2 linked regions of the Homo sapiens genome follow. The protein of the gene in region 1 purifies or fractionates together with the protein of each later gene. This does not show direct contact. Each region holds a gene or a part of one and is shown in the gene's direction. Other genes may lie near its edges.

What was found.
Region 2: the proteins of ZKSCAN3 (region 1) and IPO8 purify together in Homo sapiens (co-immunoprecipitation; one large-scale study listed by IntAct). This does not show direct contact.

Annotation. Positions count from the first base shown.
Region 1 is NC_000006.12:28,348,454-28,353,049, forward strand, and holds the start of ZKSCAN3 (zinc finger protein with KRAB and SCAN domains 3), read left to right. Parts: upstream 1-1,493; 5' UTR 1,494-1,614; exon of another isoform or gene 1,615-1,935; intron 1,936-4,596. UniProt on the Homo sapiens protein: Transcriptional factor that binds to the consensus sequence 5'-[GT][AG][AGT]GGGG-3' and acts as a repressor of autophagy. Specifically represses expression of genes involved in autophagy and lysosome biogenesis/function such as MAP1LC3B, ULK1 or WIPI2.
Region 2 is NC_000012.12:30,678,759-30,682,581, reverse strand, and holds part of IPO8 (importin-8), read left to right. Parts: intron 1-764; coding exon 765-923; intron 924-1,943; coding exon 1,944-2,100; intron 2,101-3,823. UniProt on the Homo sapiens protein: Involved in nuclear protein import, either by acting as autonomous nuclear transport receptor or as an adapter-like protein in association with the importin-beta subunit KPNB1.

The DNA of each region.
Region 1 (4,596 bases):
TTTAGATATCCAAATATTACAGTACTATTTGTCAAGTAGCTCCTTTATTCCTCACTGATTTGTAATGCAATTTCCACCATATATCAAGCATCCACACATACATGTTTGTTGCTCAGTCCTCAGTTCTGTTTCATTGGTCTATTTGTCTGTAGTTGTGCCAATACTATATTGTCTTAGCTGCTATAATTTTATAATAAATTATATAGGGCAAGTTTCTGCAGCTCCTTCATTTGTTTTAAAAATGTCTCGGATTCGTGACTCTTTCATTATTCCATATACATTTAAAATCAACTAGTCAAGTTCCACTGAGCACAATTGGAATCTTGATTTGCTTTGTACTGGATTTGTGTATCAATTTAGGAAGGAATGATATCTTTATGATATTGAGTTCTCATATATATAGGTGTATATACATGTCTCATATACAGGTGTATACACATGTCTTATATACATAGGTGTATATACATGTCTTATACATAGGTGTATATACATGTCTCATATACATAGGTGTATATACATGTCTCATATACATAGGTGTATATACATGTCTCATATACATAGGTGTATATACATGTCTCATATACATAGGTGTATATACATGTCTCATATACATAGGTGTATATACATGTCTCATATACATAGGTGTATATACATGTCTCATATACATAGGTGTATATATATGTCTCATATATAGGTGTATATATATGTCTCATATATATAGGTGTATATATATGTCTCATATATATAGGTGTATATATATGTCTCATATATATAGGTGTATATATATGTCTCATATATATAGGTATATATTTCAACTACTTATCCCTAATGAATAAAGTTACTAATGTTTCCATTCAGGTATCTTTTGTAAGTATTTGCTTCTGTGATAGATGTCTTTTAAAAATTCTATTTTTATAATTTTGATGGAGAATGTGATTGTGAACATGAATTTTAAAAAGTCCAGCCAACTTGCTAAACTCTCTTATTAATCATCATAATTTGAGTGTTAGATTATCTTGGATTTTTTATGTAAACCACGCAGCATGTTCCTTAAAATTTATGTATTTAGAATTCATATTCTAATTAGGCAATGCAATCAACTCTAAAATTAAAAGTACATTTAAAACATGCACCCTAACACTTTCCTTCTCACTCTTGTCCCCGTTTTCACTCAGTTTCTGACCGTTCACCTCTCGTAGGTAACCACCATTATTAATTTTCCGATTTTTCCAGGGCTTCTTTGTGCCACACACGCACACATAATTTAGATTCTTTTTACTCTCTTCTATTCGCAAATATAGCAAATTATGAAAATAATTCTGCACCTTGCCTTTCTCCCTTAGTTATAGCTGGAAAAATAAAAATTTAAAAGCCTCTTTAATAGCAAAAGGGGAGGGGACACAAGGTGCCGAGCTAGCAAACGACAGAGTCTGTCAGGGAGGTGGCTAGAGAGGCCCGGAAGTGGCTTCTGTGCCCCGCCCTGCGGGTGGTTTGCTAGTTTCAAGCACTTTGTGAGTATGGGGTGAATCGGCGTCGGCCTTCCACTGTGGGGTTAAATCTCATCCCGCGGCTCTCCTCCTGTCGGTCCTGCAGTTCTTTTGTCCCCGGGTAGAGGTGCGTTTGCAGGAGTATGTGTGTGTGTGTGTGTGTGTGTGTGTTTGTGGAGAGAGGCCCTTCCCTCCCCAGTTCCTGCAGCCTCGGCTCCCAAGGAGGGAGACCCCTGCGAGAAGCCGTGGGGGAGGGAAGGGCGCTCTGCGGCGGAATGAAGTGGTCCTCGGCGTTCCTGCGTAGAGCCCAATATGGGTGTCCCTTGTTTAGGGCCGTTACCGAGTGTCCGGGTCGGTTCTTGAGGGTATTTGGAGACGGGATGCATGGGTCACATAGACAAGCCTCGAGAATGGGAGCCGTTACATTTTTGCACTGCCTGGTAACAAGGTCAGTTTCAAGGTCTTTAAATTATTCTGTGGTACTGGCCAAGAGCCAGAACGTTGGAGTCAGATTACCTGGTTCAAATCCTGCCTCTGCCACTTACTGGCTGTGTGACTTTTCACTAGTTCCTAAGCTCTCTCTCTGCCTCATTTTACTATTTTGTAAAATGGGGATAATATTCCCTAACTCACTGGGTTGTTGTGAGGATTGAATGCATTCGTATGGGTAAGGTGCAGAGTAAGCATGATTTAAAGATTTGCTTTTATTAGTGGTACTATTATTATTTATAACTATGATGACACATTAGTGACTGGCTTTTGTACGGTTGCTTTCAATTTTACTGTCATTCATCAATTCACTTTGTAATGGATGATTTCTATATTTTAGGAGGGAAAAATAAGATACTCTGAAAAAGAGCCTATCCCAAAGCAAAGACCAAAACTGGTTTGTGTTGGACGTTGTGATACTCAAACTCTCAAAGGCTTTAAGACTCGGGGGTACCTTTTCCTTGGCTGGAGATTAGGAGGAACAATAGAAGTTTTTAATAGTGAAAAAGGACTAGGACCCCTGGTTTTTGCAAAAATCTGATGTCCTGCTTAGTGCTGGAGATCCACCAGTTTTCGAGCTTCCAGGAACGCCCTAGCCTGAAACTGGCTTCATACTAACACCCTTCATTTCAACCCAACTTTTACAGGGTTAGCTCTTTCATAGACTTGTAACTCTTTTCTGTTAATGAGAAACTTTCCTTTCCTTATCTTCAGTATATTTACTGATTTGATAAATACTTTGTGTTGGCAACCAATTTCCCAATCTTGTGCCTTCCCACTGTGATCAGTTTGGCTCAGATCCAAGTAGGGGCCAGGTAGTGAAACCTAAATGGAGTTTGTGGAATAAATGATATAAATGTATCAGTGTTGTTTTCCTGCCATAGACTTCCTCCCTTCCCCACCGTGGACACCCTCCTCATTCCACTTGGGCTCCAGATTCACTCTGGGTTGGGCTGTGGCTCTCTCTCGCCTTCCTTGACCCTACCTTAATGCTTTTTGGCTGTATTATTCAGGAAGGAAAGAAGTTAGGACATTGTTTAATTTTCTAAAATTTTGGAGAGAAATTTAAACACATTTAATTGTAGAGAGAATGTTACAATGAACACCAATATAACCATGACTCAGCTTCAGCCATCATCTTTTGGTCATTTTCTTTCATTCTTCTTTTCCCTCCTTTCCACTCTCTTTCCTTCCCTTCTCCTCCTCCTTCCCTTTTGTCTCCCTCCTTCCCTTTTACTTCCTCCCTCTTTCCCTCTCTCCTTTCTTTCCCTCTCCCTCCTTTCTTTGTCTTCCTTTCCTTCCCTCCCTCTCCCCCTCTTTATCTCTTTTTTTTCCTCATTTCGTCCCTCTCTTCTCTTTCATTTTATAGCAAATTGCAGATGGAAACATTTTAGTTCACTCACAAGTACAAGTACTTCAGTGTCAATTTCTTATATACAGGGACTTTTATCTTAATATAATCATAGTATCATGATCACACGCAAAAAAATTGACAATAATTCCTTGATATCATTATCTTGATTTTCAAATAATTGTCTCAAATATTTCTAGAGTTTTTTTTTTTTACAGTCTTTTTACAGTTGTTGTTTTCAGTGGGGTCCGAATATGGTTCACCATTTGCATTTATTTGATAAGTCTGTTCAGTCTTCTAATCTATGACAGTTCCCATTCCCTCCCACTCCTTTTGGTAAAAATGCCATTTATTTGTTGAGGAACTTGAACCTTCTGTTTTATAAAATGCCTCACATTCTGGATTTGGTCGATTGCTTCTTTTTAGTATCTTTAACTTATTAGATCTCAAACTCAGCTGCACATCAGAATGACCTAGAAAGTTTTAAAAGTTATTGATGTATTAAAAGTCCCACCCCCAGAGAGTGATTTAATTGATTTTTTTTTCATTGCAATCTCCATCTCCCAGGCTCAAGTGATTCTCATGCAACAGCCTCCCAAGTAGCTGGGATTACAGGTGTGTACCACCACACCCAGCTAATTTTTGTATTTTCAGTAGAGACAGGGTTTCGTCATATGGGCCAGGCTGTTCTTGAACTCCTGACCCCAGGAAATCTGCCTCAGCCTCCCAAAGTGCTGGGATTACAGGTGTGAGCCACTGCACCCAGGCTGATTGATCTTGATTGTACCCAAGGCATTAGGATGTTTTAAAAGCTCCCCAGTGATTCTAATATGTAACAAAGTTTGAAAGCCTTTAATGTAATTTGCTCCTATATTTCACCTGTACACTGGTATTTGGATCTAAAGACTAGATTAGATTTAGGCTCACTTATTTTGGTATTATTAGCTCATGTAGGAGTACCCCAGATCTCTTGTGGCAGCTTATTAGGAGGAAGTATTTTCTGGTACTTTTGATTTGTGACAATCAATGGCTTCTCTCAGTTTCCTAATTTCCTTCTATTCCCTACCATCCTTTGAACTGTAGAGAGTTGGACTGAGGAATAGAGGTTCAGGAAGACACGGACTTGGAATTGTTTTTCCCTTTGTAACCTCTACCAGCCTTACATTTCTTTTCTTTTCTTTTTCTTTTTTTTTTTTTTTTTGAGGCAGAGTCTTGCTCTGTTGCCAGGCTGGAGTGCAGGTGCAGTGGTGCGATCTTGGCTCATTGCAA
Region 2 (3,823 bases), on another chromosome or scaffold:
AAGTTGAAATCTCATTGAGGAAATGATTACTTATCTATGTTATCAGATAACTTATTTTAGCATTTAACTTTGTGGTTTTATTAAAGGAATATTTTCTTTTTCTGTTTTATGTCTCTTCTGTTGCCTTTTTCATTTATTTCTTTGGAAATAGCTCTTAGCTCTCCTCTTCAGGAATTGCCTCGCTAATAATACATGTTTCTTTCTTATACTTGGGGTACAAAAATTAGTATCTCAGACTGCTTTGGATAGATTCAACATACGATGTTGGGTTTTAATTGATAATGGATGAGTTCAAGGTTTTGGCCCATAGAGAAGCTTCCCACCATTATGTAGGCCTTCTTTGTACTTACTTGTACCATCTTTAGACTAGGTTTATCTGTTTGAAGTGTTATTTTTTCCCCCATTCAGGATATGGTAACCAAAATATGAGATATAATAAGCTGGAAATTTTACAGAGTGGAGGTAGATTCATTGGAGTTTTTTGAAAATTTTAAACTATTTAAAACAATTTTTTTAAACTGTATTTAGGATAAGATAGTTTGAAAGGTTTCATTCATTTTAGAAACTCACCCATTCTGTTTATTTTCAACAAGTTGAGCCACTGAGGATGTTTTTTAGATATGTCTTTTTCCCCTACCCCACATATGTAAGTATATAATACACGTAAATAGAAGATAACAAACTTTTATGTAAAATATTAGAGGTCTTTGAAACACAGTATTTATAATTACTTAGATTTTGGACTTTTCTTCCCTACTTTGTAGAGTCCAATTAACAATGTGTCTCCGTGCCATCATAAAACATGATTTTCCTGGTCACTGGCCAGGAGTGGTCGACAAGATAGACTATTACTTGCAATCACAGAGCAGTGCAAGCTGGCTTGGCAGTTTATTATGCCTGTATCAACTGGTGAAGACATATGAGTAAGTTGGTTTCCATTGGCTGAAGAAAGCAGCCTTGTGTAACTTAGAAATAATGAAGTTGCAAAGAGTGGTCTGTTGTGGATGTTCTGCACAGGTTATCAGATTAGTTTGGGAAATGTTGGGTTAAACATGCTTAAATGTGTTTATTTGCTGCAGTTATTGAAAGAAACTTTAATGTGCTGATGGATATTGCTAACCTCTGAGACAGTGATATAATATGAAGCACTTCTCAAACTTGTTAGTTGCACAGTACCATTTATTAACAGCTTTCCTTGGAAACTCTGATATAGAGATACCTTTATATTTGTCTTCTAGGGAGTATATTAAGTAAACCAAAACATTTACTTTTTTGGATGCAAGATAGAAAATGTTAACGTTTCTTTGCTAATGACATTCTTTTCCATAAAAGTAGCTTGGGTAGGTAGAGGACTAATATCACACTTAATAGTATTGCTTTCTGGTTTCTAGGAAGATTGCTACATGTGTATATGAAGTCCTGTAGTTCTCCTTTTAAACTGACTAGTTCCTACTCTGCTTATGAAATTTATAGAACATATTTTAGATTTATGGCAATTAAAGCAATCTAAGAGCACCTAAATTTTAAACTATTTTAACTACTCAATTCAGGGAGAAATATAATAAGAAAATTCCCCCCATATTATTTGTTATATAGTCTATTTAAAATAGCATAGCAACTTATATTTTATAGTAAGAATTTTGGCTGGATGAAAATTAATTTAAATACTAGAAACATTCATGTAGGAAAACTGCAAAATGGTCTCGGGTTGTTTTAAACTAGTCTAAATCTTTCCAGAAAGATTTTAGGTGTTGTGCCTAAAACAGGATGTGTTATTTTAAATTTCTTTTCAACTTAATTCTAGCAATTCAAACAAACTAGAAGCCAATGTTAATGACTTTGTTTTGTTAGTTTTATGTATTTAAAAAATATTTTATAATTTATTGTTGATGGTTCTTTGGGTGGGAAAAATTACTTTTCTGTTTTTGTCTTTGCTCATGTAGATATAAGAAAGCAGAAGAGAGAGAACCTCTTATAATAGCAATGCAGATATTCCTGCCTCGTATTCAGCAACAAATTGTTCAGCTCCTTCCTGATTCCTCCTATTATTCTGTATTACTGCAGAAACAAATTCTGAAAATCTTTTATGCACTTGTTCAGGTAGGTTTCTATTGCAGAAAACAAACATGGAGTCCTGTATTTCTGCCTGACACATGGAAAGTGCTCAATAAGTGTCACTTATTATTAAAAATTATTTTGTATTATCCCATATATTTCTTTAAAAAATGCTTATGAGGAACAGGTTCACAGAAATTAATTACCCAAGATCGTCTCAATGGCATATCTGCCCCTAAGTGCTTTTCACTCCAGTGTCTGAAATCATGGGTAAAGCAGAACCAGGGTAGGTAAACCTACCTGCTCTAAAACCTGATTACTCGCAACTATCTGTTCTGTAGCATTCCTGCCTATAGATTAGTTATGATTACAAGAGAAGAAGAAGGAAAAGAAGAAGGAAAAGAAGAAGGAAAAGAAGAAGGGAGTCCCTCTTCTATTGGGAAATCATATTGATGGTAGTTTCTTTGCATTTGACTCAAAGCTAACAGAGGATTTAGGGTTCATTTTCCTTGGTTTAAAATACTGCCTAAAAAAAAAAAATCTGAATGCTATAAGGGATACCAACATGGGAATCCGGAAAGAAATGAGAAGATAGAGATGGAATATGTTTGAAATATAAAAATATTTAACATCAAATCCTTGAAAGATTTGGGTAAATTATTTAGGTCTGATTGGAGGAAGAATAATTGTTTTCAGTCTTAACTGTTTGATGAATGAATTAAACTCTATTACATGCTTTCTAGTTGAATTTGTCGTGAGAAGAGGATGGTTTTGTTGAGCTCAAAAACCATGATAGTTTGGATCCATCCTTGGCTTTTTATTGACTTAGATACTTAAACTATTTCAAAATATTTTACTTTAATAAAGATTTATATTTTTATTAAAGCTTCCCCTTTTAAACTTTTAATAGGGATAGTCTGAGGCAGATATTTTTTTTTTTCCCCCAGAGCAGCCTTTTTGCAGGGAAAGAGAAGAGGGAAGGAGGCAAATGTGAGAAGAGAAGAAACTAGAATACTAGGAAAATATGTTCTCTCACTTGTTTTGAAATAATATTCAGAGGCCAGACTTCCTTTTTCTATTGGCAGAAACAGCTAGAAATTGGGAAGTAAGACAAAGGCTAATGAAATAATTTTTCTAAAGCCTCTACCTCTAATTGGTTTGCTAAGACGACAGAATCTTCATATTTTTCTCAGTCTATACTTGCTAAAAACCTGGAAAACCTCAACATTTTTAACCATTTTGGTAATCTGTTATGTACTAATACATTAATATTCTCCTCTGGGAAGTAGAAATTTAGAAGGCATTAGGAGCCACTATTACAATGCTGACATAAGTAAAAAGCGATAATATGAGAAGGAGCAGACAATTTTGTTTTTAAAAGTATGAGCAGCCGGGTGCAGTGGGTCAGGTCTGTAATCCCAGCACGTTGGGAGGCCAAGGTGGGTGGGTCACCTGAGGTCTGGAGTTCAAGACCAGCCTGGCCAACATGGTGAAACCCCATCTCTAGAAAAATACAAAAATTAGCCAGAAATGATGGCGGGTGCCTCTAATTCCAGCTATTCCAGAGGCTGAGGTGAGAGAATTGCTCAAACCCAGGAGGCGGAGGTTGCAGTGATCTGAGATTGCACCATTGCACTGCAGCCTGGGTGACAGAGCGAGACTCCGCCTCAAATAAAATAAAAGTATGATACAACAGATCTTGTCTAAGTAGCATAATATTTGTACAGGACACTTGGATATTCTATACATAAGCTCAGCCTAACCCTCA